Homo sapiens: one gene and its partner. The protein of the gene in region 1 interacts with the protein of each later gene in a biochemical or structural test. Each region holds a gene or a part of one and is shown on either strand. Other genes may lie near its edges.

Region 1 (3,500 bases):
GTGTGATCCTGGCTCGCTGTAACCTCTGCCTCCTGAGTTCAAGCGATCCTTCTGCCTTAATGTCCCAAGTAGCTGGGATTACAAACATACGCCATCATGCCCGGCTAATTTTTGTATTTTTAGTAGAAATAGGGTTTCACCAAGTTGGCCAGGCTGGTCTCAATCTCCTGCTCTCAAGTGATCCACCTGCCTCGGCCTCCCAAAGTGCTAGGATTACAGGCGTGAGTCACCGCGCCTGGCCCATAGTGAAGTTTTTATTTTGTCATTTAGCTATATCTTTGGAAAAATTTGGAAATGTATTTTCATCTCCCTAACTTTCAAATAAAAGTTACTATTAACATTTTGAAGGAATTAGTAGGGATTATTTGGTGATAATGTCTTTTTTTAATATAATTTAGTAACGTTTGAGTCTTTCACATTGAATAATAGACTGGCAGTTGAGCAACATGGTCTTACCGTTGTTTAGATGACTTTGAAATATGCTTTGAGTTAGTAATGTTACAAATTACTAACATTAGAAATGTTGTATAGAAAGTAAGTATACAAATTAACAGTCGCTTTTGATACTCATGTTAACTTTGGAAGACAACAGATAGTATCCTTATTTCCAGTTTTACAAATGAGGGAAAATTTAATAAAATTGAACAGAGAGCAACAGCTCAGTCTAGAAACTAGTTCTCTAACTTCGGTAACTTGTATGCTGTCAGAGATTAAACACTTGGGTATTGAAAGCTTATTTGGTGGTGGTTACTATGGCATGAATTAGTTTGAAGGCATTTTTGCTTTTATCCTGCTAATATCTTCACCCTTCTTCCCTCAGTGGTTACAACTTGCCAAATTATAGTACCTTGATAAGATGTATTTGTGTAGTTCTAGGCGCAGTTATCACATCAGTGTTTTATTTTCAAAAATAAGTTTTGACATGGAAGCATGACACAGATTTCACTAGGAAAAGTCCATTTTCTCTTAATCCCTCATATTTAAAGACTTGTTTACGAAGTGGAAACATTGCATAGAATATAATACACTAACGTTTGGATTTTAATAATACGTTTGACTGATGTTAAGTATTTTTTGTCTAGTAAAAATAGTGACACATGACCTTTTTTCATTGATTTATGCTTTGTGATAATACTATGCAGAAATGTTTGCATTGGATTTCCATTGGTCAATTTAGAAAACACAGGAAACATACTCTGTTTCAAGAGAAGTGGAATAAGATTGAAGGAGTAGCAGTCTTAATGTTTCAACTCTTCATTGTTTTTTTTTTAATTTTAGAAAACAGTGTCTGTGATGTAAGCATCTGTGCATGTAAATTGTTAAATTTGAACACTAGTACCAAGTCATTTGTCTTACGCTTCTCATAATCACATTTTAACTTTTTATATTTTTAGAGAGATGGTTATTATGTATTGTTTATAATTTAATGGTATTTCTATTTTACAATCAGTATTTTGGAATGAGTTCACTTAGATCCTTAGATCCTTAAGACAGTCTTAATTGAACTGTTTTCTAGTTGTGCAGGAAGTATTTAAAATTTTTGGTGTAACATACTTGGGGTTTTGGTCTGTAATTCACAGAAAATTTATATATTCTAATTTGTGTCTATTAAGCATCTGTTACCTTATTCTGTTGTGCAGAATTGTTTGGGGGGTAGTGCATCATTTTGTTATGATGCTGGAAAGAGTGAAGATGGAAATAAGCTGGGCATTTGGGATGCTATACCAGGCACTAGATATAACTCATTGTCAATTTGATAATTACAAAACCAATTTTTGTGGGGTTGTGTGTGTGTGTGTTTTGTTTTTTTTTTTTTTTTTTTTTTTTTTAAGACAGTCTCACTCTGTACCTAGGCTGGAGTGCAGTGGCACGATCTCGATCTCACCTCATTGCAACCTCCACCCCCTGGCAAAATCAGTTATTTGGTTATTTGGGGCTTGCAAATATATTCTATGAACAGTCCTTTTCAGGATTTGTATGATGCTTTATAATTTTCAAAGGGTTTCTATATTGTTTCTCATCTGACTCCACAGTAGCTCTTTGAAATAGGCTGATCAGTATTATTCCTGTTGTACTGATGAAATTATAAAGTATTTAGCCTACTGTTGTTGAAACTGGAAAGGAAGTCTCTTCACATAAAATTTTATCTCTGCCTTCAAATTATACTCCAAGTATAACTAATTCTCACTATTTTATCATTTTAGTTCTGGCTACCACCTTTTCTTAGCTTGAATTCTGCAAGAGCCCCCTAGTGTTCCCGAGTCCATTTTGCTTTGTATGATTGTTTCCCCACACAGTAGCCAGAGTGATCCAGTTAAAATGCCAGTCACCTCACATCTCTCTCAAGCTCACGGCCCTCCAGTGACTCCCTGTTTCTTAGCAAATCTTATAATAGATCCTGTGTAATCTGGTGTCTGGGTATTTTTTCAGCCTCTTCTACTATCTTCCCCTTGTTTGTGCTACTCTCTCCATACTGGCCCTGCAGGCAGAAGTTTGTTCCTGTCTCAGGGGCTCTGCACATTATGTGCCTTTATGTTTCTCCTACTGTGCTCACTCACTTCAGTAATGTGTCTGCTTAAGTGTCACCCTCTCACAGGGCCTTCTCTGCCCTTGCTGAACACTCTGAAACAGTCATTCTCATCATTGTCTTTCCTTGCCCCTGCGTGTTCCTTCCTTGTATGAAGGTGACCTGTTATGATTTACTTATAGTCATTCTGCTATAACATGACATGGGCATTTCTGAAAGTCACGGTGCTGTGCAACATTGCACCAGACCAATTTATGGGGAAAATGGAGTTAGGAGCACAGTAACCAAAAACATTGTCAGTGACACATTTTAAAAAGATAGGAACCTAATAAAAATTGTAACTTAGTTTTACACGTATAAAATGGTTAAAGAATAACACCGCAATAAATGGCACTTTACCTTGACCAAAACCTGACTTCTTGTGAAAGTGGCCACTCATTGGAAGGGTTGCAGTTCATGAATTACTGTAAAGTGATGGATGGAAGATACCTGATACGAGACAAAAACTTGTAACATCAAATGTGGATGGACCTGACTCATAATTCATGATGAACTAAGATAGCTATTAGATGTTTGAGCTGTGTCTGCCTTGTAAATTCCTGTGCAGCTTGATGTAGCTAGTGTTTCTCACAGGTGAAAATACACATAAGTGGGAAATTTGCTGGTTTCTGATAGATCAGTAGCCTTCAAACAAATTTGTCTATTTGGAAACAAATGTTATAGCAGAACTGACTGTATTTTAGTTTTTGTTTGCTTGCCTTTTGTGGAATATAAGCTCCACCAGAAGAGGAAGTGAGAGTTTTAATGTTTTTATCCACCTTGTATTCCTGTTACCTTGAATAGTGCCTGAAACTTTATAGCATTTAACTAAATGGATAGATAAAAAAAATTTGGATTGTTATAATTTAAGGGGAATGAAATTATAGTATTTTGGATTAGCATTCCTCAAACTTGAATGTGTATACTAAGCACC
Region 2 (3,500 bases), on another chromosome or scaffold:
GAGCAGGTGGGGCAGGGGTGCTGGGGCAGGTGAGGCAAGGCTGGGCCCTTGGGCCTTAGCTCCTCCCCTCTACATCCATTGCCTGTCTGTTTTCTCTCCACAGCTTAACTCTGGCTACTATGTATCTGGGAGCTCCTCAGGCTTCCAGGGGGGCCAGATCACACTCAGCATGCAGAAGGTGAGCGGCGTTTTCCTCCCACCCCTTCTCACAACCTCTTCTCTGTTGCACTCTTGAAATTCCCCTCAGGACAAAGGACAAACATCCATCTCTGAGGCCCTTCCTGGTCACTCCTGCTGCTCTTTTTTTCATGCATTCATATACTTGTTGAGTAGATTTTTGAACACTTAGTGCTAGGCACTAGGCATATTGGCGAGAACAAAATAGAGGTCAAAACTTTCATGGACCAGACAAGAAATAAATAAAAGAATATATCTTTAGGTTCTACTTGTGGTAACAGACAAGAAATCAGTAAAATAGCATATCAGTGTGTTATGAGTACCACAAAGATAAAGCACAGAAGAGAGAGCTAAGAGTGAGTTGGAGTCAGTTGGCATCTGGTGGTCACTGTGCCCTTTTTCCCTTTATTAGCACTTTAGGCCTTTCTGGAATGCCTTCCGTGACTCCCCATCAGTTAAGAGCCTTAGTTCCCAGCACCGACCATGCAGTATTGAATTTTCTCCCATTTTTCTGGGAGCCCTTAGGAAAGTACTTGGTTTGGGGTGTCAGAATCGATCATTGCCCTGCACGGGGTGCTTGGGGTGGAGTGTATGCTGGGGATGTAAGGGAGGCCTGCTGCCACGTCTGGCCCTGCCTCCCATGGCCCTGCCTCCCACTCCTTAGTTTGAGATGCTGAATGCAGAGTTAGAGGAAAACCAGGAACTGGCCAACAGCCGTATGGCAGAGCTGGAGAAACTGCAGGCCGAACTTCAGGGGGCTGTGCGGACCAATGAGCGCCTCAAGGTGGGCTGCTGTAGGGGCTGAGAGGTCCTGGGCCTGTAAGGGAGGGACTGAGCCCTGAATCCTGTTGCTGATCCCATTTGGGCATCCCTGCCCCAGGTGGCCCTGCGGAGCCTTCCTGAGGAGGTAGTGCGGGAGACGGGGGAGTACCGCATGCTGCAGGCCCAATTCTCACTGCTCTACAACGAGTCTCTGCAAGTGAAGACCCAGCTAGACGAGGCTCGGGGCCTGCTGCTGGCCACAAAGAACTCCCACCTGCGACACATCGAGCACATGGAGGTATGGCCCTGGAACAGGCGTTAGGGCTGGGCTAAGGGCCAAACCGTTAGTGTTGACGTGTTTGTGCCTTCCGAGGCCCTGTGTGCCAGCCAGGGGTCCCTGGGGAATAGATTCTTCCTAAGATACTGAGTCCTGAGGTGGGACCGAGGGGCTGTGTGGGTCCTTAACACATCAACCCACAGAGCGACGAGCTGGGGCTGCAGAAGAAGCTACGCACAGAGGTCATTCAGCTGGAGGACACGCTGGCCCAGGTACGCAAGGAGTATGAGATGCTGCGCATCGAGTTTGAGCAGAATCTGGCGGCCAACGAGCAGGCGGGTATGTGGTGAGGATAGGGCGGAGGTGGGGCCTTATCTGGGAGTGCTGGGCCCTGGTGTGGGGCTGCTGCTTATCCAGATGCAAGAGGCTAAGGCCTTTTTTTTCACAGAGCCTCGGCTTCCTATGCAAAACAGGGCCTGCACTGCTTGGCTCCCAGGCACAGTGAGGGTCCGCCAGCTGGGGTGGCTGATGGAGCAGGCACATGCAGAGTCTGAGCTGTCAGCCCTGTCCTCATTCTTCTGGTCTGATGACGTCTCTGTCTCTCAGATACTTGTGTTACAAAGATTTATCAAATGCCACCTCTGAGCCAGGCTCTGTTCTAGGGTTTGGGGTTATGCCAGTGAACAAAACAGAATTCCTGCCATGTGGAGCAACATTCTGATAGAAGACAGACTAGAGGAAGACGAACTAGTAGAAGAAAAATGGAAAATGTGTTAGCTCTTGACAGATAGGAAAGTAAAGCAGAAAAGGAAGATAGGAAGTATCAGGAGAAAGGGTGTTGCAATTTTGAATAGGAGGCCAGGGAAATGTACTGGGAAGGTGATATTTAAGAATCTAGAAGAAGTTAACTAACTTTTGTGAATGTTACAGTTACCTTCTCTATTAAAGGGAATTGGATGTATAAAAAAAAAAAAGAAAAAACCTAGGCCAGGTGTGGTGATTCATGTCTGTAATCCCAGCACTTTCGGAGGCCAAGGTGGGAGGATCACTTGAGGCCAGGAATTTGAGACCAGCCAGGGCAACAAAGTGAGACACTGTTTCTATTTAAAAAAAAAACAAAAAACCCCACATATTCTATATTAGCAAAAATCGTATGAATAGGCAGTGTCAAGTTAATTTTGGGTGAGTTTCCTTGAAGTCAGCATTATTTACTTTGATGAGTTCATGCTCCGTTGAGGCCGCAATGTTCCCCTCCTGCACAGTGGGAGTGATGGCATAGCCTCTTACCCCACTGAGGGGTTGGAGTCCTAACCCAGGAACTGGTTCTGACACCTTTACTTGCTGATGCTCCTCCAGGGCCCATCAACCGTGAGATGCGCCACCTGATTAGTAGTCTTCAAAACCACAACCACCAGCTAAAAGGGGACGCCCAGCGATACAAGCGGAAGCTTCGAGAAGTACAAGCTGAGATTGGCAAGGTGAGAAGGGGCCTGCCTGGGAAAAGGTTTGGCTAGACTCCAGTGAACACCATCTGACTTCATCCCTCTTCCTCTCTGCCTTTGCAGCTCCGGGCCCAGGCCAGTGGCTCTGCCCACTCCACCCCCAACCTGGGCCACCCAGAGGATTCTGGCGTCAGTGCCCCAGCCCCAGGGAAAGAGGAGGGTGGGCCAGGCCCTGTCAGTACCCCCGACAACAGAAAGGAGATGGCTCCAGTGCCTGGCACCACCACTACTACCACTTCAGTGAAGAAGGAGGAGCTGGTCCCCTCTGAAGAGGACTTCCAGGGTATAACCCCTGGGGCCCAGGGCCCTTCCTCCCGGGGCCGAGAACCTGAGGCCAGGCCCAAGCGGGAGCTTCGGGAACGGGAAGGTCCCAGCCTAGGACCTCCACCTGTAGCCTCCGCTCTCTCAAGGGCTGATCGGGAGAAGGCCAAGGTGGAAGAAACCAAGCGGAAGGAATCAGAACTCCTCAAGGGTCTCCGAGCAGAGCTCAAGTGAGGCTCTGTTCCTGTCTCCTTCCTGACCCTGCCAGGTGGCCTCCAGTCCCACTCACTAAGACTTCCTCCTGTACCTTCTTGCCAGGAAGGCCCAGGAGAGCCAGAAGGAGATGAAACTGCTGCTGGATATGTACAAGTCAGCGCCCAAGGAGCAGCGGGATAAGGTGCAGCTCATGGCAGCGGAACGCAAGGCTAAGGCCGAGGTGAGGGCAGCTGGGGCTTGTGGGGCATTCAGAAAGGCAGAGCAGAGTCCTAGCTCAGCAGGAAGCAGTGTCAAGAGAGTTTCTT

What was found. Proteins that work in one complex are often made in the same cells at the same time.
Region 2: the proteins of WAC (region 1) and RNF40 form a complex in vitro, tested with the Homo sapiens proteins (2 studies listed by BioGRID).

Annotation. Positions count from the first base shown.
Region 1 is NC_000010.11:28,539,618-28,543,117, forward strand, and holds part of WAC (WW domain-containing adapter protein with coiled-coil), read left to right. Parts: intron 1-3,500.
Region 2 is NC_000016.10:30,765,322-30,768,821, forward strand, and holds part of RNF40 (E3 ubiquitin-protein ligase BRE1B), read left to right. Parts: coding exon 1-6; intron 7-103; coding exon 104-178; intron 179-841; coding exon 842-961; intron 962-1,057; coding exon 1,058-1,237; intron 1,238-1,419; coding exon 1,420-1,555; intron 1,556-2,572; coding exon 2,573-2,694; intron 2,695-2,781; coding exon 2,782-3,209; intron 3,210-3,297; coding exon 3,298-3,415; intron 3,416-3,500.